Linked DNA regions of Homo sapiens. The protein of the gene in region 2 interacts with the protein of the main gene of each other region in a pairwise test. Each region holds a gene or a part of one and is shown on either strand. Other genes may lie near its edges.

Region 1 (7,000 bases), on a different chromosome or scaffold from region 2:
CTTGCAAAATTTAAATACTGCATGTGCAAAGGCAAATTGACATAGGATATAAATCTCCAGTTCTCTCAGAGGGAGTAGTGATGACTCTAAAACCACTGGAAACAGAAAGTTCATCGTGATGACTCTAACAGCTCCCTGATGCAGGCTACTCTTCTCTTGTATATTTAATGTTCTATATATGTCAGTTGGCCTTGTTTGCAATCTCAACAGGAGGCTTGTTCACTGGACGAGTTTTTGTTTTTGTGTTTGGTCTGTCCTGTTTTTTTGTTTTTTTTTTCCATGTTGTTGAATAAGACTTATGATTTCACATACTAGACTGCTTATAAGTTCTTCTAGTATTTGGTATTAAAAGAGGTGAAACAAAAACTAAACAAGGTGTATACAGTCTCAATACAATTCTAGGTTAGAAGCCTAGATGTGTGACTGGAGATGCCTCCTGTCCATTCAATCTGACTCCAATGTGGTTCTGCAGCACTGGACAAAGATGGGAGATTGAAACAGGAGCCCCTGCGATGGGGGAACAGAGCCAGGGAGCAGGGGTTGGACAGGTAAGCCTCCATATACCAAGCCCTTCAACTCCTGGAGTTACAGTTATCCCTCCTTTGTTCATTAATGATTCACCATGTACCCACTGCCAATGGTGGGCTTTCTAAACACTGCACTCTACATGAGAGATAGAAAGATGACAAAGACATATTCCCTTCCCTCAAGAACCCAGGTTTGAGAAAACAACCTTGTGAACCTTCTATTGGAGCAGCAATAAAGATCTGAGCTAAGTGTCGAGGGAGGCTGAGGAGGTGGTCACTAAGTCTGTCTTAGGCATCCCAGGGTCTCCTCAGAGTCCAAGCCTGAAGTCCACTGCAGGGGTCACCAGCCACCTGTGGCCACATTGGAATGTGGCCATTCTGAATTGAGGTAAGTAAAAAACATACACCAAATTTCAAAGATGTAATATGGGAAAAAAAGAATGTAAGGTACTTGGTTAATGATTTTTTATATGGATTACATATGGAAATGCTACCATTTTGGCTATATTGGGTAAGATATATTATTAAAATTGATGTCACCTGTTCCCTTTTACTTTTTTAAGCGCGCCTGCTATAAAATATGAAATTGCCTGCATGGCTCCCATTCATGGATCCTATTACATTTCTATCTGCCAGTGTAGGTTGGTGCAGTCACAAGACAATGCTTCAGGAGAAAATCTGGGGAGGCGGTCTCAGGGCAAGAGGGTGAGTGGGGGAAATGCCTATGGAATGAGAAAGAGACAACAGGGGGACCGACCCATCAAGGGCTACAAAGAAGGTGAATTTGCTTTCTGAGTTGTGCTTGCCTGCCGGACTCATTTGCAGCAAGAGAGACCAGAATATAAAGGCCACGATAATAACATCTCAAATAAATTAGAAGCAGCTTGTGGTTTATAGTGAGCAATGCTCTACTGGGGACCAGACCAAGCAGTTACCCCTGTCTTCACTCCATCTGTGGTTAAGTCATTTGGTCACTGTTGCCTTCTCATCTGCAAAGCGGGGACTGAGATTAACTGCTTGGCCTGCATATCCCCCTGACTCTGTCAACTAAGTTTTCGGAAACCTGAAGCACTCTAAACATCCTGGGGGAAGAAAGGGCTGGAGAAACATACAATGTTTTGTGATCAGAGTTTTTAAGCTGAAAAGAATGAAGAAACTTGAATAGAATAAATTCTTGATACTTCCTTTTTCATAACACTTACCACGCTTTATTTCGATTATTTATTAGCCCCCTTCCTAGCTAGATATAAGCTAGCTATAAATACCATGAGCTCAGGACCCACATCTGTCTGCTCACTGCTGTGACCGCAACTTAGAGGACAGAGCCCAGAATACAGGCCTCAATAAATACTGTGGAAGAGGGGTCACATGGAGAATTTGCAGTCATTTTTGCTGTTGAGCATCTGTTAAGTTAAAGTTTCCAAGTGTGCAAACTGTACTCGGAAATGAGTAAGAAGTAGAAACTTACCTAGAGATGATCAAACCAGTAGTGCTGTCACTCTAATGATGTTATCTGTCCCACTGTGAAAACATTGTCACAGGTGAAGGAGGAGAGTGAGGTGAGACCTTCCCAGCCCTTGACTGCTCTTGCACTGGACACATTCCAGGAAGCTCTTGTGGCAGAAGCAGCCACTTAACTTACTTTTAACAAGAGAAGCTGAAGGCTGAGGGAAGTCAGGACCAACAGAGGATCCAAATTTCAGTGGCACAAGTCTTAAGCTTCATTTGGTTGCATGAATGAGTGCGGAAGCAGCATGAAGTAGTGGTGATACAAACCTGGGTTCTGTGTTTAATTCTATTCTCAGTACTTTCCCAGTGGGAGACTGTGAGTTCCCTCTCTGAACCTCGTTCTCCTCCATGGCTTAAAACTGGACTCATAATGCATGGCTTAGCTATAATGTACCTTTCAAAAAGGGCTGGCATCCGGTAAACACTGAATAAATGGTTACATGTCAAACACAGTAAACATTCAACAATGGCTAATATCTTCCTTCTGCATCAGCTTTTAAAACAGATTTTTTAACCTGGAGTCCAAGGAGTCCCAGGAAATCCACAGACGAGATTCAATGGATCCTTGAAATCCCTAAAATTAAATACAAAGCGGGGTATGTGTGGACATCTTTTCTCTTCAAGGAAAGAATCCATAGCTTTCATATGATGCTCTTAAGACTCTCAGACTGAAAACAGTTTAAGAACTATTGAGTTTCTGTGGCTTCCAAAGTGTTTAGCTCCTTCTATTTATCTATGGAATAGCTCTGTGAATGACTCTCAAAACCAAGCTTTTCTGTGCCTCCTCAAGAGGCCTGCATTTTATATGCAGCAGTACAACTTCCTTCCATAAGACGCTTTTATTTTCTGGCAGCAGCAGTATCACAGGAAGATGACTGGAATTTATAAGTAAGAAACTGATCTTAATTTCAACAATAGTACTGGAGCCCTTACCTCTTTAAATACACCTTTTTCCATAGTTTTTTTTTTTATAGGATTGATGACCAAAGAAGGCAGCTATAATGTTTTATTCTCAAGATGATGGTTACTCATCTTAGAATAAAAACAACAACAACAAAAAATAACAGATGAATGGGAAGAGCCCAATCAAAGCTTTATTCTACTCCTCAACAACTCAGGTGAGTGTCTGGCCACTTGGCAGTCGCCAGGAGGAAGGAGCTTAGTGGCAGACAAACTGCTTCAAATCTCTAAATCTTTGTTTCCTCATCTGTTAAAAAAAAAAAAAAAAAAAAAAGATGATAACAGTGACGCCTCCTACCTAGGGCTGCTGTGAGAACTAAATAAGAAAGTAATTGTAAGGCATCTTTTAAGTACTCAAAACAGAGTGCCTCATAAATATTAATTATTAAATATCCTCTCTGATGATAGGGGGAAAAGGATTCCTTATCTGGTCTCTGACCCATAGATTTTAGCCTGGAGATTTACTCTGGGTCACTGATATTTTCCAGCCTCCTCCTTAAGGTTGTTATTAGTGACCAAGTAATAAGTAAGTATATAAACCATTGAGAAAACTGTTGAAAAAGTGTCTGAGCAGCAGCTTCAAAGAGAATCTGTCTTCATGTCCCAGTATCCTAAGAGGCAAATGTGAAAATCAATTTAAAGGAAATAGAATATACCTAAAGAAAGTCACCTGAAAAAATGAAAGATGAATGATTCAACACACATTTTTCTCTCATTTATTTAAAAATTTTTGAGATACATGGTGGGCAAGGCACTGTACTGAGCACAGGATGTGCAAAGATAAGGAAGTAAGTCCAGCTCTCAAGACATTTAGTCTACAGAGGGAGACACACATGTATATCCAACGCCATACGTACCACAGGATAAAGTGTGATGTGGGGAGAGGCTGGGAGGGGATGTTCAGCAGGGGCTTCTTGAAAAAGCAACACTTGAGATGAGTTTGGAAGGATAAGTAAATGTTTAATAGTTCATAGTTTGAGAAAGAAGAAACAATATTCCACAGAGACAACAGCCCATGTAAAAGCACATGCAATGAAGCATTTAAGCATGGGGATAATATGGGCAGCTAGAAGAAGGCGTTGCTGAACATACCAGCACCTACCCATCCCCTGCACCCACAGGAGGAGGCAGGACTCACCTCAGAGAGAATCTTGGAATTCATGGTAGGAGCCTGTACTTTTCTCCAGGACTATGACAAGGTTTGGAATGGTTCTTAGCAGGGAGTTATATAATTCAATTTTATCTATTCTTTAGAAAGAGCAAGCAGGCAGCGGTGAGGAGGATGGATTGAAAGCTGAGAGACTGAAGGCAGCATTTGTAGAGGTGACTTGGGAAGAGTGAAACATGAAAGGAAGTGGAGCAGGAGGTCTTGGTGACTGATTAGGTGGAGGAAGAAAGGGAGAAGGTCAGATCGAGATCATTCCCAGGTCTCTGGCTTGGAGGTGTAGTGAGAGGATGATATGCCTGTCAGGGAAAACAGGTGTTATAGTATTTAATAGATATCTGCTGTTTCTGCACGCACAGCATCTCCTATCTCTTCTTTTCAATATTTCCTTTTAAAAACTACCCCTTCCCTGCTCTCAGGTTATATGGTTTAGAAGAGTTTTGCTGACTAGTCTCCCATGTACTTCCTTCACTCCCATACACTCCTTCCCACCTGCCGTCACACATACCACTCTCCCCTTCCAAAAGCCTCCAGGACTGGGCTCATAATCAAAGCTGAGTCAAGTGGCATGGTCCAAATCTCCGGCCATAGGGTCTGGTTCAAGCATATGCATGTGATCAAAGTGGTCTAATTAAAGTTAATCCTGAATTCTCTTTTTCTCAGGAGTTAAGCCTAAAGCTGCAGATGAAAATTTTGCCACCATGAAGAAAAGAAGAAATCAGAATTGGATTCTTTCTGAACTTTTCCTTTACAGTAGCCAGTATATGCCCTTTCCTACTTGAGCAAGTATAAACTGGGTTTCTGTGATTTGCAACCAAGTGTCCTGACAAACACAAGGATGAAAGACAACTGTGTCTCAATAAAGGAAAAATAGTTTATTTTTATGAGTGGTGGATTTAAAAAACCTACATTACTGTGACAAGAGTACCTTAAAACATTTAAGTCTACAAAAGGCACTTAGGGACTTTATAGCAAACTCTACACTTATAATGAAAAGCCAGACCAGATCATTTTAAAAAAACGTTACTGCACGAGATAATGGCACATCCACTCGTTCAATTAACATTTATTGAGTGTCTTCAGGGGTTTTAGACTTGTGCAATAAAAATGATAAAAACGTATTCTTTGGTTTGAGCTGGTCCATCCAAGGTCGTTCCATAAAGAGCAGCTGTGTATGCTGTTCAGACTAATTGTGTGAAGCTGGAGAGGCCAGGTGTTTCTGTCTGGCCCAGCAGCTGCACTTTGCGGTAAGGGCACCACCTGAATTTCAGTCTGGCCATAAAATGAGGCTGAAGAAACAGCACCTTGCATGAGCTTTTAGGTGAAAGGCAGAACAGAACATGTTTAGAATTCTTCTCCCTTCTATTAAACATCCATTAACGTTAATGAAGGAGTCTGGATGAGGCATTGTGCCAGACCGTCTTTTCTTTATTTTCCACGAGAAAACTCCACCACAAGCATGGGTTCAACTATTATTCATGCATCTACACTCTATGGACATATGCCTAAGTTGTCACCTCCTGCCTTCTTACCTCTTGCTTCCCCACGTCTAGGCCGAAATAAATCTTCAAGTGTTCATCTGTGGTGAGCATTTGTTGGTCTTGTCACCCTATTTCCATCTCCACTTCTGACAGCAGTGCTCCAGTGTCCTTTAAGGGTGAACCCACCCACTTTGCATTGTGTGCTGACCTGGTGTGGCTGTCAGTCAGTGCTACTGGCTCAGGAGTGTGGATGCCACTCAAATTAAGTCAAAGGTGTTCTCTTGCCTGGTATGCTTAGTTTAAGGGAAGAGCATTCTAAGAGTAGACCTTCCATCCTGAGAGTAGTGGTTCTGACTTCCCTTTGACATCTTAGGGAATCCCTGAGGTTGTATTTTGTTTTCTGTTGATATACACATAAAGAAACTTAACTATATACAATAGTGCACTGTGATTTAAACACTAAACAATAGCTAACATTCATAGCCTACTCTGCAGCTTATAAAGTACTTTGACATTCAATTTATCTCTTTTAATCAACATTTCTGGAACTGAATTTTTCTCCTCCCCCAAATAAATCCCTTATTGATTTTTCTATTTCTTACAAAAGCACAATCATTCTTTTAGTCACTTAAGTATTTTTAAATCTCAGAATGCTTTCGACTTTTTACTTTTACTAACCCCCTATAATCAGTCACCTCATCCTAAATATGGGATCTCCCAGATCGACCCCTTTCCAATTTTCCTGCCTCCATTTTTCTCAAAAACATCAACTTTCAACAATGCTCAGCTCACCCTGCCACCAGCCTCCTGTCTCCAAACCATCCCAACACCACTGTCAGAAGGATATGACTAAAATTTTATTATCATTGTGTCATACTTCCTCTACCTGGGGTTTATAGAAAAAAAATTGCAGGACAATGATTTACTGGACAATTACTTAACCTAAATCCTGGGCTATTGCTAAGCAGGCTCCAATATGCTCTCCTAACATATTATTTTCAGCAGAAAACATCTGCTAGACACAAGTATCCTCAAAAATGTAGTAGATCACAAAAACTGGCTCTAATTTTTTGCAGCTCCTTCTCATCATAAGTGGACTCTTTCTATACCCCTTGAATCTGGGGTAACCTTCTGACTTGACATGGCTAATGGGAGAGTAGCTAATGTGATTCAAGGTGAGGTTTTAAAGTTGCTTTTGCATTGCAGGTTGTTCTTTTACTGCTCTTACAACACTATTTGATTTGCCATGTAAAGAAGCCAAGGGGAGTGTGCTGGAGAATGGGAGGTACATCCCAGCCACTCGTTATGTTACCCTGGCCAACAGTCTGATAACTGCCAGACATATAAGTAAAGCCATT
Region 2 (16,304 bases):
TTTCTTCTATCTCTTTGTCTTGTGTGTTTATTTCTACGATCTCTTGTCTCCGCACATGAGGAGAAAAACCACAGACCCAGTAGGGCTGGAGCCTATGCTCTTATTTCTTCTGAGAGTGCTGGCATCGATCAGTCCCAAGAGGCTCTGGGTGCCTTGCCACAGTGACATTTCTAGATGCAAACTACCTGGCCATGGCAATGAGAGGAGGTGACCCCACCCAGATCTCCTCGGCCCTGCTTGAGAGCACTCAGCGGACTGCCCTCTGACCTCTACTGGAACAGGAAAAGGATGAAGCCTTCTGTGCTGTGTCCTCCTGCACAGGCTTCTAGGAAACTTGGGAATCCTTTATTCCCCATTATTTCTCAACGTTCACACGCTAGAAAGGATCAGAATGTGACATACAGCTCTGTGGCATTTTAGAAGCCCAAGAGGGTCTCTAAAAGCCTACCTTGGGAATGTTCCAGTTTAAGAATTTGTAACATTGACTTTCAAGCTGATAAATTGTTCAATATGTAAAGTCACTTAAAAGAATTCTGACTTTGGATTGTAACTTTCCAAACAACAACAATTTATTTGACCTCATCACTAACTGGACATTAGTGCCTACTCAAATTTAGGGAAATTACTCACTTTTTTTAGTCTTGGTGGTAAAAACACCTCGATTGTAGCAATTCCCGTTGTTCTATAATTGTCATTTCCTGTTCCACGCTCAATTGCCTTGCAACGTATTTCTTCTATTACCTTTTCTACTTCATTTTCACAGCATTCTAGTCTGTCAGAGTACTGCTTAGCAAGGTCCTATCAAGAAAAATCAGAAAATGCAATACTGACTTAAAAAAAAAAAGGCAAAATATAGAAAAGGGCATGAAAGACTCTAAGGCCATCAACTCTGATGAGTGGAGGTCGCCCCGTTACACTGCAGTCCACACTGTGGTTTGACATCTTGAGAGGTGTGGAGTTTAGAGAGGCCAGGAAAAAGTGAAAACACTTATTTGAGACTGGGCGCGGTGGCTCATGCCTGTAATCCCAGCACTTTGGGAGGCCGAGGCAGGCGCATCACTTGAGGTGATGAGTTTGGGACCAGCCTGGCCAACATGGTGAAACCCCATAACTACTTAAATACAAAAATTAGCTGGGCATGGTGGCGTGTGCCTGTAGGCCCAGCTACTTGGGGGGCTGAGGCAGGAGAATCGCTTGAACCCAGGAGGCAGAGGCTGCAGTGAGCCAAGATTGTGCCACTGTACTCCACCCTGGGTGACAGAGCAAGACTCCGCCTCAAAAAAAAAAAAAAAAAAAAAAAAGCAAAAAGCAAAAAACAAAAACATTTATTTGATAAATGTTTTCTACCTACAAATAGTAAAATAATAATAATAATAGAGAATCTTCTAAGGAGAAGAAAAGGGTGGGCTATGACTTATGTGACTGTGATCTATTTAAAAAGTATAATGAACTGTTCAACTCCACTGGAAGGGAAAATGAAAAAAAAACCCAGAAAATATTCCAATTTTTCAAACTTGTGAGAACAAATCAAGTTGGACTTAAACAATTCTCTTAATGAAAATCTGTGAATCATGGGTACTAGTTGTAAAACTATTTGTAAGGGAGAGCTTTAGAATTGAGAAAAAAAAGAAGATTGAAAGGGCTCAAGAAAGGATGGGAACCAGTTATTACTGAGAGCAAAGTCATTATGGTTCCTCCCCAAAAAAATCCAGATGAGTATCTCTAATCTAAAAATCTGAAATCGCCAAAATTCAGCATCTGGAGATGCTCAAAGGAAATGCACACTGAAGTATTTTGAATTTTGAATTTTCAGATTAGGATGCCCAACTAGTAGGTATAAAGCAAACATTCCAAAATCCAAACACACTTCCAGTCCCAAATATTTCAGTTACGGGATACTCCTCTCAATCTGTATCTGCATGTGAGGTTAATGTTTCATTAAACATCTCATAAAACAGTAAACACTTCAAAAAACCCTAAAGGTCAAGGTTTCATTAAATTCATAATGTAATACCATGTAGTACGTAAAAATTATGGTGTAAGCATAAATTTATGACAGAAGAGATGTTCATGATAAAAGTGAAGTTGGAAAACTTTATAGATATGAGTATAGATTGGGCGCGATGGCTCATGCCTGTAATCCCAGCACTTTGGAAGGCAAGGTGAGAGGATTGCTCAAGCCCAGGACTTCAAGACCAACCTGGGCAACAAAGTGAAACCCCGTCTCTACAAAAACTAAAAATATATTAGCCAGGCATGGTGGCATGCACCTGTAGTCCCAGCTACTCCCAAGGCTGAGGTGGGAGAATCACTTGAGCCCAGGAGTGTGAGGCTGCAATGAACTATGGCCATGCCATTGCACTCCAGCCTGGGCAACAGATCAAGACCTTGTCTCAAAAAAAAAGGAAAAAAAATTTTGTAAGTAACATAAACCTATATATACTTTTTTTTTCTTTTAGAGACGGGGTCTCACTACGTTGCCCAGGCTGGAGTGCAGTGGCTATTCACAGGTGGGACCATAGCATACTACAGTCTCCAACTCCCGGGTTCAAGTGATCCTCCTGCCTTAGCCTCCTGAGTAGCTGGGACTACAGGCATGCGCCACTGTGTCCAGCAATACATTTTTTTAATAGTTACGTAGGAAAAGAGGAAGAATATACCTATGTTAACGATGTTTAACATATTTTAAAAATACATTCTTTATATTTTTGTATTTATATACATACTTTTTAAAACCTAGAATATATATTATAAATACTTTTTTAAAAACTTTCTATAATTTTCTAGAAAACCTAACTAGTGAGGATTTCTTTCTTCCTCCTGTCACCAGCCAATTCTGACACCAACTGGAAGTCCTACGATTCAATTCTGACACTAACTACCCAGAGTTAGCGTTAGACTCCACAGGTTTAAGGGCTCAGCCCACAAAAAAGCCCTAACTTCAGATACCAGTTACCAAGTATCTGGTCCCCAGGTTACCCATACTTTTGTCTGACTTAGCTACAAAGTCGAGGGTTCACACAAGCACCCCCTTCAGGTTCCATGATTTGCTAGAACAACTCACAGAACTCCAGAAAATGGTATACTTATGAATATAGTTCATTACAAAGGATACAAATAACCATTCACATGAAGAGGTACTAAGGCAAGGTCTGGAAGGGTCCTGAGCATAGAAGCCTCTGTCCCATGGAGTTGGGGGTGTACATCCCGACATGTGGATGTGTTCACCAATTTGGAAGCTGTCCAAAATCTGTCACTTAGGGGTTTGTATGGAAGTTTCATTATGCAGGCCTGATTAAATCACTGACCATTAGTATTAGTCATCAGCTCAATCTCCCCTTCCCAGAGGTTGGAGGGGAGGGTGGAAAGTTTCAAGTGTCTAATCACGGCTTGGTACTTTTGGTGACCAGCCCCATCCTGAAGCTATCTAGGGGCAACCAAGCCTCATGAGCACAAAGGTTGCTCCTATCATGCTTACCACTTAGGAAATCCCAAGAGTTTTGGCTCTGCCAGGAACCAGGGACAAAGGTCAAATATTTTTCCTTTATGCCACACCTAGTTTCTAAACCAAGAGACTGTAACAATAAATTCAGAAGCAAGGTCAGAAGGTGGGTTGCAAAGAAAAAGTGAGGCCTGCCTGGAACAGAAGAAACAGAAGAACTAGGACCCTAATACAGTTTGTCACCTCCCAAGCACATCATTATGTCACAACACAGAGCAATTTAATGCCTCATGACAATCCTTAGTCCCTGATAAATGTTACATCATGTTCAGGATACTCTGAATGAGAGCAGAGAAGTACATGCTAGGAAATTCCAGTATGATAGATTTCTGGCAAAAATGAGTACTGTTTCTCTGCTTAGAAAAGCAAGCAGACTTCAGTTTCTAGAAACATCACTTACATACAATATCATTTCTGATGATGCCATGAAAAACTGAGATACAACTGTTAGAAAAAACCTATTTTGGAAAAATGAACACTGATAGTGAGAGCATCAAAAAAACTGGGGGAAAAAGGAGCAATTGTTTCACAGCAGATGATGATAGCAAGGAGGACCGAGAATGAGCCAAGACACTGTCACTTTGAACACACAATGCAATTACTTACTGGCACCAATACTGTTCCACTAATGGGTCAAAATGAGTTCCAGATAAATAATGTTATGTAATCCTGTGATGGTATTAAAAATATATGCCTGAAAAATTAGATAACATCCTCATGTGAATAAAATATTAATGAACAAAAATAAGGTTGTCAGTTCCTAGTAAAAAGTGGGTACCCGCTCACCACTAATGCTTTTGGTTATGCCAAAAGTTTATATGGTCATGCCTGACAATTCAGAATCTTATTTACCAAGGAGATTTATAATGCTGCTAATTATTGATGTCTTAAAAGAAAAATACCTTTAATGCCAAACCAACTTTTTTATTTTCATCTGTATATGGAGGTTTCCAAAGTTGAATCCTGTCTTCCCTTAAAAACTGGGTCAATTTTGCTTGAAGATATTTCTTTTGTGCCATCCCTGAAAGCAAAACAATACATTAATAAAACTCCACATCGCATTTTAAAATGTTAATAACTTACCTACATGTTAAGGTGCTTTGTTGGGTAAGCAAAGCTCCCTTCCTCTGTCATTAAATATAAATTACTATGGTTTAAATGAGCTCCAGACTTCTCTAAAAATATATATAGAAATATATGTTCAATTATATATATTACATATATAAAATATGTATTTCAAAGTTGCTAATATGTAGCAAGGATTATTACATGTTTCTATTTCTTAATCTGCTATTCTCTTATCTAAGAGAAAAGAGAAAATAAGAGAAAGATAAATCCCTCGAGTCGTGAACTTCTTTTTTTCTTTTTTGAGACGGAGTCTCGCTCTGTCGCCCAGGCTGGAGTGCAGTGGTGCGATCTCGGCTCACTGCAAGCTCCGCCCCCTGGGTTCAAGCAATTCCCCTGCATCAGCCTCCCTACTCACTGGGATTACAGGCATGCGCCACCACGCCCGGCTAATTTTCATATTTTTAGTAGAGACGGGGTTTCGCCATGTTGGCCAGGCTGGTCTCGAATTCCTGACCTCAAGTGATCCACCCACCTTGGTCTCAAAACGCTGGGATTACAGGCGTGAGCTTGTAAATTCTCTCATACTTTGGCTAGTTTAACATAAAACAAAAGGCCAACCATCCTGGTAGTTAAATATAAAGAAAAGCTTGCTTGAACTGTAAACTATCGATAATAAATATTTTCGGATGGGTGTGGTGGCTCAGGCCTGTAACCCCAGCACTTTGGGAGGCTGAGTTCAGGAGCTGAGGTCAGGAGTTCGAGACCAGCCTGGTCAACATGGTGAAGCCCTATCTCTACTAAAAAAAAAAAAATATATGAACAATTAGCCGGGCGTGGTGGCAGGTACCTGTAATCCCAGCTACTCGGGAGACTGAGGCAGGAGAATCGCTTGAATCCAGGAGGCAGAGGTTGTAGTGAGCCGAGATGGCACCACTGCACTCCAGCCTGGGCAACAGAGTGAGACTCCGTCTCAAAATAATAATAAATATATAAATATTTTCTATGTCAGAATTTTTTAAATTAAAAAGATTACAATACTAGGAAAATTTTGCATATTTTCTGATTAACAGCCTAACAGCACATCTACTTTTTTTTTTTTTTTTTTTTTTTTTTTTTTTTTGAGAGGGAGTCTCACTCTGTCGCCCAGGCTAGAGTGCAGTGGTACAATCTCGGCTCACTGCAAGCTCCGCCTCCCGGGTTCACGCCATTCTCCTGCCTCAGCCTCCCCAGTAGCTGGGACTACAGGCGCCCGCCACCACGCCCGGCTGATTTTTTGTATTTTTAGTAGAGATGGGGTTTCACCGTGTTGGCCAGGATGGTCTCAATCTCCTGACCTTGTGATCCGCCCGCCTCGGCCTCCCAAAGTGCTGGGATTACAGGCCTGAGCCACCGCGCCTGGCCCTACTATTCAAATCTAACACTGATCGGATCATTTTACAGCTGAGAAAATTAGGGCCCTGAGTTTGTACCATGACTCAGGCAAAGACACAAAATTAGGCAGCATCTTAACGAGCACAACTTCCACCCACAACACTGGACTCTGAACTTCCGTCATGGAGTCCCTTGCTGCTTGCCTGTTCCAGGTATGTAACTTCTCTCTCCCAGAGAAGTATGTACCGCGATGGAGCTGTCTACTCATCCCATACTAGCACAGCAATTCAAAGGTGAGTGAGGCGGCTGAGATGTAAGGCAGCTGGCAGGTGTAGCACAGCGCTTTAAGGTTTCCCAAATCAGACAAGCAATAAGTAAAGAAAAATGTTATTAGCCCCTGAATGATGAAGACAAGTTCTAGAGAGTGGAAAAAATATGAGTTAATATTACCAAGATAAATTTCTTTCTTCTATTGAGGGCCAGTATTCCACATCCCCCCAAACCCAATTCACACAACTTTGAAATCTTTGAAAACTTTGGTAGCTTGTGTATTTCATAAACAAATATTTTTTAAAAGAAAGTTCAAATCTATTTTATGTCAGTGCGGGGACAAGAATTAGGCTAATCAGGACAGGGAGGAGAAAAGAGAGGAAGGAATAACACAGCCAATGAGGCTGCTGTGTGCAACCTGGGTGGCCCATGGGAGAATCCTCCATTTTTCAAGCACTGACAAACGGCTTATCACAGCAAAGCATATTAGTACTTAGAGCGTTAGCTTTTCAAACACAAATAACTTTAAAAACTACTTTACATACTACTCATGAATCTTCAGAAATTCTGAATAAAATATCACAGCAACCCTACTGTCTCCCCACTGGGGGACAGTAATTTCACAGGCTGGTTACTGGAGCCAAGCAATTTGAAAGGCTGATGCGGTACTCAGAGATGCCATCCAAGGCCGGGCGCGGTGGCTCACACCTGTAATCCCAGCACTTGGGAGGCCGAGGCCAGTGGATCACCTGAGGTCAGGAGTTCAAGACCAGCCTGGTCAACATGGTGAAACCCCGTCTCTACTAAAAAAATAAACAAATAAAAAATTTTTAAAAAGATGCCATCCAAGCCACCACTTGACAGAAGGACGAAGGAGTGTTACAAACCCAGTGCGTGTCAGACACTCCAGGGAGCAAACAAGAGCTCCAGGGTTACACCGAATAAGATTTAATGTTAAAAAAAAATTAAACCACTGTCTTGAAACTTAAGGAACTTCAGTTATAGACAACAGAGTAAGTGGCGACATATTTTAAGTCAAGTTTAATAAGTCAGTTTTTAATTTTAACTGAAATGAGAACTGAAAAAGTTTCATGCATGCCATACAATGTTTCACATTGTAACTAAGAAAAGACGAAACTCATTAATATCACTCCGTGGTCCAAGCAGAAAGTGAAACGTTATAACGATCCTTTAAAAATTTCACTTTCACTTTTGTAATGAATCGATCATTGCTACATTTAGCCACACCTTTTCAAGTATACATTATATATAGTTGAAACACAACTATATCTAGTCAAGACACATTCATTTTTTCTTAGGAAAATGAAAGATTCTTGATTAAAAATAAAAGGGAAGGAGGTGAGAATGATAGAATCAGGTCGTCAAGGTTCGAGAAAATCAAGTGTCTTGTCATTAAATAGCAAAGAAAATCTGGCTTTGATTGCAAATAAATCCCAAATGGTATACTCGGAGTGTTACGATTCAAGTATAGCATTTGGCTAATTTTTTATAGACATATTTATTCCTTTCTCTCCCCAAACCGATACACTCAATATTTTCTTTTAAATACCCCACACCTCTGCCTAACTCAGGGCAAACCAAAGGGCCCCGAACGGCCAGCGCGTCCCGAAGCCCGGCCCACCGCTCCCGGCCCCGGCCCCGGCCCCGGCCCAGCTCCACGCATGGCTGCTCACCCCCGCCCCGCGGCCGCTCCACCCCTGGCCAGGAGAGGTGCCCAGTCGGACCGGGAACCGGGGCGCCAAGCAGTGCTGCTGAGGCTGGGGTCGAGGACACTCGGCCGCCGTGTCCTCACCTGCGCCACGCCACTCCCGCCGCGACCAGCAGAGTGCCCGGATGCGGCAGCGGCCGCCGTTTGTTTTCATTCCGGGTGAGGCCAGCCCCGCCCCCGCCGCCGCTGTCGCCTTCGCGCCGCCGCCGCCGCCGCCGCTTGGAAAGAGGGTTGTGGGCGGGGCCAAGGCGAAGCCAGCTGTGGGCGGGGATACGGTTGTGTGGGCGTGGTTACCGCGGGGCGGAGCCGCGACGGGGCGGAGCTAAGCGGAGGCGGGGCTGGGCGAGGATGTGGCCGTGTGGGGCGAGGACCTGGGAGTTGGTGTCCAACGCCACCCCAGGCTCAGTCTTCCAGGACTTCCCGCCCGGGCTCAGTTTGCCAGCCATCAAGAGGAAATGGATCCTGGCTTTGTTTCTCCAGAATCCTTGAAAGAGGCTGGGGGAAGGGTCGGGACCGTCCCAACCCGCATCTCATTCCTCAGCCTAGGCTGGACCCCTTCCCTAAACCAGCGGCTTTTCACCCCGCCCTCCACAAGCCCACCAGGGGCTTCCCTGGGGTGAAATTAGGCTGCTTCCCGGGAATTTCCTCCCCCATGCTGTCCACGGCCACTAGGGACCACAAGGCCTAGGGAGCTCTGCCTACTTCCAAGGTCCTATTCCCAAGGCTGTGCTCAACAGTGACGCTTCTATTTTATTATCAGTTATTGCTGTTAATCTCTTACTGTGCCTAATAAATTAAACTTTATCGTAGGTATGTACGTATGTATAGGAAAAATGAAGTGTGTGTATATATATAGTATATATATATGTGTGTGTATGTAAAATGGGGTGCAGTACTATCCGAGGTTTCAGGCATCCACTGTGGGTCTTGGGACACACCACCTGTGTGTGGACGAGAGGGGACTCCTGTAACCTTGCAGTGACCAATCCGTTTTTCGTTCCCTGTTGCTGCTTTCTTTAGCCCTTTTCTACCTATAAAGCCCACCTCCTCTGCCCAGCTCGTTGGAGCACCGTTTCTAAATTTTCAGAGAAGATGCCATCCTGATTCATGAATCAATAAAAACCAATAGATCTTTAATCTAAATTTGTGGTAATTTTGACTTCTGACAAAGGGATATTAATAACTGTATAACCGCACCAGACCAATCTGATTCGCCTTTTATATACCCAAGTTGTGAGTTGTTTTTCAGTTGCATGGACTCCCAGATGGAAGGTTTCGCACGTAACCTGAGGATGCCCAGGTGAACCAAGCATGCAACCAGGGGCGGAACCTGAGTGCTCAGATCAAAGCAGGGACTGAATTAAGAAATGGGCACTGCATGGTGAGATCCAGAATGCAATCAGATCAAGCCCTGGTGTCACCCCATGGCAGGGTCCAGTCAGATGAGCATCCCAGCATCACCTCATCGCAAAATCTAATCCGATCATGCGTCATTACCCTATGCTTATAAAACCCAACCCAGCCCCAAGCTCAAGGAGACAGAGCTGAGGGTTTCCTCATGTCTCCTTGACAGTCAACTCACAATAAAGCCTTTCTTTTCTCAAAAGCCCGTGCCATGGTGTTGGCTTCTAGCACATCAGGAAAAAGCCCGTTGATTGCTCAGTAGCAATTGCAGCAAGGTAGAAGGACAACAGAAACTGTTCTGACATTTTTTTCTGAGGGCTTTCTCTGAGATGAGTAACAAAGATAGTTTCACTTTTACATTTACGTAGTAGACCATCAGGAAATTGAATGTCCACGCTCAGGTGTGATGGAGCAGCTTGCAGTAGACCAAGGCTCCCACTAACAACAACTAGAAAAGCCAGAAAGCGAAGTCAGAAAACATCTGTTTGAAGGCAGTGAAAGCTGCTGAGGCAAGAATGGGGGGACTTGATATTCCAGAGAATGAGGAACCTTCAAGGGGTGAGCTAATGTCTGCAGTGGCTTGTATTGGTGTGTGAGGGCTTTTGCCAGTTCTGGATACAAGCATGAGGCTGAGAATTTAGACTTTGAGACCACAGAGGGCCACTGCTGGGGACACAAAACCAACACAGCGATGTAGGGGGAAATTCCAAGGACAATTGCTGAATTCAAGGCTTGTATGGGGCAAGAAACTGAAATGTAAATGGAAGGCCTCTGAAAGCAGAAGTTTTTGATAGACTTGCAAAACAAAGATTCGAGTCTGAGATCTGCTAGGGTGGTGGTGGAAGTGGGTTACTGCAGAGCCTACACCATGTTCCCAGTTGGAAACTGGAGGGCAACGGTAGCTTGAACCCTACCAGAACCTCAGCCCAGCCTTCACTCCATGCAGTCCCTGATTGGATTAAGGTTATTGGCCACTCCTGTCTTTGGTTTTGTGGAGGAAAGGGAAAAACCCTCCTGAGAGAATGATAACATTTGAAGCCTCTACAACTTTTTAGAAGCTATATTTGGCATCTCATTAAAAAGTTACTAGATAAAAAAAGAAAAAGACAATAGAAACAGACCCACAGATGAGTCAGATATTGGAGTTGCCTGATTAAAATAACTCTGATGAACATTTTCAAGAAAACAGAAAAAAAGATGAAAATTTTCACCTGAGTATTGAAATCTATAAAAATAAATCAAATGAAAACTCTAGAGGTGAAAAGTGTAATAAATGAGGCTGTGAACTCTGGATGTTAGACAAAACTAAAGACACGATTAGTGAACTGCAGGCACATCAATAGAAAATATCCAAACTGAAGCATAGAAGGAAAGAATGGAAAATACAGAAACAAGCATTAGAGACACATGGGACATGATGAAAAGTTCTACCAGGTATTCAGGTTTCTAGAAAAAGAGAGAAAGGGGCAGAAACAATATTTGAAAAGATAATAACCAAGAGTCCAAGTTTCGCAAAACTGATGAAAGACATCAAATTACAAATTCTGTAAGTTCTATGACTCCTAAGCAGGATAAATACAAAATCAGCCACACCCAGTGCATTCTAGTAGAACCATTGAAAACCAAGGAAAAAGATAAAATCTTAAAAGGTGCCAGGGCCAGGTACGGTGGCTCACGCTAGTAATCCCAGCACTTTGGGAGGCTGAGGCAGGTGGATCACCTGAGGTCAGGAGTTCGAGATGAGTTTGACGAATACGATGAAACCCCGTCTCTACTAAAAATACAAAACTTAGCTGGCTGTGGTGGAGGGCGCCTGTCATCCCAGCTACTTGGAAGGCCGAGGCAGGAGAATCGCTGGAACCTGGGAGATGCAGGTTGCAGTGAGCAAAGATTGCACCATTGCACTCCAGCCTGGGCAACAGATTGAGACTCCATCTCAAAAAAAAAAAAATTAATTTAATTTAATTAAACAAAAAAAAGGTGCCGGGGAAAAGATGCATTGCCTTTTAAGATTGTCAGCTGACTTCAGAAACAATAAATCCAGAAGACAATGGAATGGCATCTTTAATGTGCTAAAAGAAAATACACATGTTTAGTTCAACGTTCCTTAATATTTTAGGCAATAAGATTTATTGAGAACACAGAAATGGTGCAGACTTGTGCTTTTATCTTTGTCATGCATATGTGATGTCTTCTGGAATTAAGTTTAAAAAAGCAAAAGAAGTAAGTTATTCTGGCCTCCCATGGAGGTTTCTCAGATGGTAAGCCTACAGTGATGAGTAGCCACCTTCTTACTTCCAAGGTCACCTTAGTTTTTATTCACCCTTAAACTTAAAGTCACATGACTAATATTGTATATCGAATTCTTTTTAACATTAAAAGGGGTTAAAAAACAAACACGGATAAAACACAAACAGATGATCCTGAACTTAATTCAGTAGTACTAATACCACGGATTTATTTATTTATCATCTCTCTCCTTATTTTTTTATCTTGTTAGAGTAAGTGTATCACCTACCCAACTTTTTTTTTTTTTTTTGAGGCGGAGTCTTGCTCTGTCACCCAGGCTGGAGTGCAGTGGCACAATCTCAGCTCACTGCAAGCTCCGCCTTCCGGGTTCACGCCAATCTCCTGCCTCAGCCTCCCAAGTTGCTGGTACTACAGGCACCCACCACCATGCCCGGCTAATTTTTTGTATTTTTAGTAGAGGCGGGGTTTCACCATGTTAGCCAGGATGGTCTCGATCTCCTGACCTCGTCATCTGCCCGCCTTGGCCTCCCAAAGTGCTGGGATTACAGGTGTGAGCCACCGCGCCCAGCTGCACCTACCCAACTATTGAGACAAATGAACCTGGGTTAAAAAATTTGGACCAGAATATGTCAGAGATTCAAAACCAGAACACAAAATTTGAGGACTGATTACATGCTTCCAGAATGATTCTACCTGAATCACAGGTGAGAAGGCCAAGCCCTTTCTCACAGTGACTATGGCAACAGGAATTCATGACCTCCACTGAAATAAGGCATCCTAGCCCATGTTTCCTAGGAATCAGAGTAATCCTCCTATGCAATGACCTTGTAACTTCTTTTAGCTTCTATCATCTGTTTGGGTGATTGAAATTCTGGATTCCCAATCAGATGTGAACAACTTTTCCTCACCACTAACTTGATTTCTCTTTCTTCCATGTTCTTCATATCCAACTAAGATGCTGAATAAAATTACTATGTCTCCAAACAGCATGTTAAAAAATTATTTATGGGCTAGGAGCGGTGGCTCACGCCTGTAATCCCAGCACTTTGGGAGGCCAAGGTGGGCAGATCACGAGGTCAAGAGATTGAGACCATCCTGGCTAACATGGTGAAACCCTGTCTCTATTAAAATACAAAAATTAGCTGGGCGTGGTGGCGCATGCCTGTAGTCCCAGCTACTTGGGAGGCTGAGGCAGGAGAATCACTTGAACCCGGAGGCGGAGCTTGCAGTGAGCTGAGATTGCGCCACTGCACTCCAGCCTAGTGACAGAGCGAAAATCCATCTCAAATATATATAATTTATGACACTTGTTAAAGAAGGCCATTCAAAGAGGCCATGACAATATGTATAGGGACCCCTGCAACAGGTCTTGCAGTGGGGGAGAGAGACTGGACTCAACTCCAAGTCCAATTAGGACATGTGGGAATTTATAATCAAGGAACAAGAGGGGCAGAAGGGGGGGTCAGTGGATGAAAAATCAAAAGAAATATCAAGGAGAAGGGGCTTCTGGCTAAAATGACTTGATACTATTGTTGCTGAAGGCAGGCCAGGGTGACCAGATAAAAGATAAAAGGATCAGATACAAAAGATGAGGGCCTTCTCTCAACTGACTTGGCAAAGTTCTTGCTCTAACTGGATTCTACAAGAAGAGAGAGGAGCCCAAGGCTGCGCCTAATCAGAAAGGACTCAGGAGACTGACTAAAGTTTGGTCAGAAGAGAGAGCCTTTGTCAAGGATTCCTAGTAAAATAGAAAACCCACCAGACTGAAAGTGTGAGTCATCGTTCAAATTCCCCAAAAACTCCAGTCGATAACCAGTCCCCAGAAATTCCCATTTATAAATAGGAAAGTCAAGAATTAACTTGTTTTCTTTTTAAATCCACTTCCCCATGTACAAAAGAATTAGTTTACCACACAACTTAATCCAAAGCATATACGGTCATCCCTTCGTATCTGTGGGAGTCTGTTCCAGAACCACCTACAGATACCAAAATCCTCAAACGCTCAAGTCTCTGATATGTAAGGGCGTAATATTTGCATAGAACCTATGCACATCCTCCTTGTGCTTTAAGTCACTTCCAGATCACTCATAATACCTAATACGATGCCTACACACCACGTCGTTCGTGTGGATTCAGCACAGTACTCAGCATGCCGCTAATTCCAGTTTTGCTTTTGGGAACTTTATAGAATTTTTTTTTCCTGGATATTTTCCATCTGCAATTGGCTGAATCCATGGATGCAGAAGACACAGACATGGAAGGCTGACCGTATCATTCTGATCAAAGCAACTATCAATAAAGAGGAGCTGCCAAAACTACCTGTTACTTTTCACTCTTCTAACAGGAATCGATAATACTCAGCATTAAATTTTGCTATCGTGCAGAGGGTGTTTAAGGAGTTTCTGATTTTACTCCAACAGAAGTAAAGTTGGTTAAGTAGAAGTTCCTTGATTCTTTATCACCACAATACCCATGCCAGGCTCTTGGCCACTGCCTGAGAGTCAGGAAAACCACACACACAGGGGCTTTGACCACCCTTCAATTCTTCCACTGCTGCTAGGAAAATAGCATGGGATTCAGCCCACAGAGCTGCCCATGTTTTCACCTTCTTGGATCAGAATGGCATCTTTCCAAATAGGATGTTGTTCATTCACCTTGGAACTGCCATCCACAAACCTGCCAGCTTTTTCTTGGTCAACTGAGATGAGTCCCTTTGACTCTCCCTTTTGCCTTTCCCCAGTCTCTTATTAATTAACCTAATGTTTTTTATCAGCATCTGTAAGACCCATGAGGGGAAGCCAAGAGAGCAATTTGGATAAAACTTCCTAAACTGTCTTTTGGTTTTCATCAATAAAGTTATATGGAGCATCCACATTAAAAGGGGCCCCTTAACCACAGCATTTACCATGACCTGAGTAATGGGCCTCTTCAGCAAGTGAACATCCCAGTCATCAAAAAGCCAGTTCCACATCACACGCATATGAAGCATATGAGCTGCTTCATCCGGGGTGTTTCACTTGGCATTTATAGGACCTGTAATCTCCAGACAAAATCAATTCACTGAGACAGCGGCACTGCAGTAAAGAAAGAGATTTATCGATGCAAGGCCAGCCATGCCACCTGGAGAGACAGAGTGATCACTCAGATTAGTCTCCCTGAAGGTTTAGAGGTTAGGGGTTTTCAAGGATAGTTTGGTGGGCAAGGGGCTAGGAAATGGATGCTGCTGATTGCTGGGGGATACAATCATTGGGGCATGCTGAGCCCACCTTTGGGTGGGGCCACAGGACAGGCTGGGTCATGAGTCACAAGTCCACTTCTGGGTGAGGTTAGTCAATTGCTAGAATGCAAAAGTCTGAAAAATATCTCAAAAGACCAATCTGAGGTTCTATAATAGTGATGTTAGCTATAGGAGTAATTGGGGAAGTTACAAATCATGTGACCTGAGAACAATGCCTGGCTATCGTTTAACTATGCCTACATCTTAGCAGAATTCAAGCCCATCTCATAAACCTAACCTGGTAGTCTTTCATTAGTTTTAGAAAGGTGGCTTAATTTTGGAAAGGCCCATTATCATCCTTGCTTTAAGGTTAAACTGTAAACTAAATTCTTCCCAAAATTAGCTTGGCCTACACCCAGGAATGACTGAGGACAGCTTGGAAGTCAGAAGCAAGATGGAGTCAACTACGTCAGATTTCTCTTACTCTTATAATTTTGCAAAGGTGGTTTTAGGGAGAATCGAACAATTCCTCTTTACAGGGTAAGCAGAACTTACAGTGGCTTTTATCCAGTCCAGCAAGCTGTATTCCATTGGGAATAACCTGCTGTGTGTCTGCATCCCATACAACCATCTGTGATTGTTCTATAGTGAGCTGTGGGTTCGGCATCAACTCAAAATGCTCTTCCACCCGGCATCATTGAAAACTAAAGAAAGTGCCCCCAAATTAGTTACTCTCACAATCCATTTTAGTAAATGTTCTTCAGGAAGCCGGTGATGCCAATCCACAACACGAAGCAATTCCTCCACACTATACCTTCTGGTTTCAGTAGTTTCTTGGTTTTGCTTTTCCCCCACATTGACTACCTTAGTAACCACAGGCCTTAGAGGTACTTTCGGTTGTCCCTGAATAATTTTCCCTTTGGAAGTAGCTTTGAGGCTGGTGGCCAGACCTCAGACTCAACTAAAATGTGAGCTTGATTTAGTATCAAGGTCCCCGCCAGCACTCTCTTTTAATTTCATTTTAGCTGTTTCAGATAATAATTACCTAGGAAATGAGTATTTGTCATTTTCTTATTAGCTTGCATTTTTTTCTCCCCCCTTTCCTCTGTCTCTTTCTTTTCTTTTTTCTTTTCTTTTTTTTTTTTGAAACGGAGTCTCACTCTGTCACCAGGCTGGAGTGCAGTGGCGTGATCTTGGTTCACTGAAACCTCTGCCTCTTGGGCTCAAGCGATTCTCCTGCCTCAGCCTCCTGAGTAGGTGGGACTACAGGTGCCCGCCACCACACCTGGCTAATTTTTTGTAGTTTTAGTAGAGACGGGGTCTCACCATGTTAGCCAGGATGGTGTCGATCTCCTGACCTCATGATCCGCCCGCCTCGGCCTCCCAAAGTGCTGGGATTACAGGCATGAGCCACTACGCCCGGCCTCTTTTCTTTTTTCTTTCCGGACAAGGTCTCACTCTGTTGCCCAGGCTGGAGTGCAGTGCCATGAGCA

What was found.
Region 1: the proteins of NUB1 (region 2) and SNCAIP interact in a two-hybrid assay, tested with the Homo sapiens proteins (2 studies listed by BioGRID).

The regions. Positions count from the first base shown.
Region 1 is NC_000005.10:122,315,237-122,322,236, reverse strand, and holds part of SNCAIP (synphilin-1), read right to left. Parts: intron 947-7,000; exon of another isoform or gene 403-946; intron 1-402. UniProt on the Homo sapiens protein: Isoform 2 inhibits the ubiquitin ligase activity of SIAH1 and inhibits proteasomal degradation of target proteins. Isoform 2 inhibits autoubiquitination and proteasomal degradation of SIAH1, and thereby increases cellular levels of SIAH.
Region 2 is NC_000007.14:151,333,567-151,349,870, reverse strand, and holds the start of NUB1 (NEDD8 ultimate buster 1), read right to left. Parts: upstream 8,060-16,304; 5' UTR 8,025-8,059; exon of another isoform or gene 7,906-8,024; intron 4,524-7,905; 5' UTR 4,522-4,523; coding exon 4,405-4,521; intron 799-4,404; coding exon 631-798; intron 1-630. UniProt on the Homo sapiens protein: Specific down-regulator of the NEDD8 conjugation system. Recruits NEDD8, UBD, and their conjugates to the proteasome for degradation. Isoform 1 promotes the degradation of NEDD8 more efficiently than isoform 2.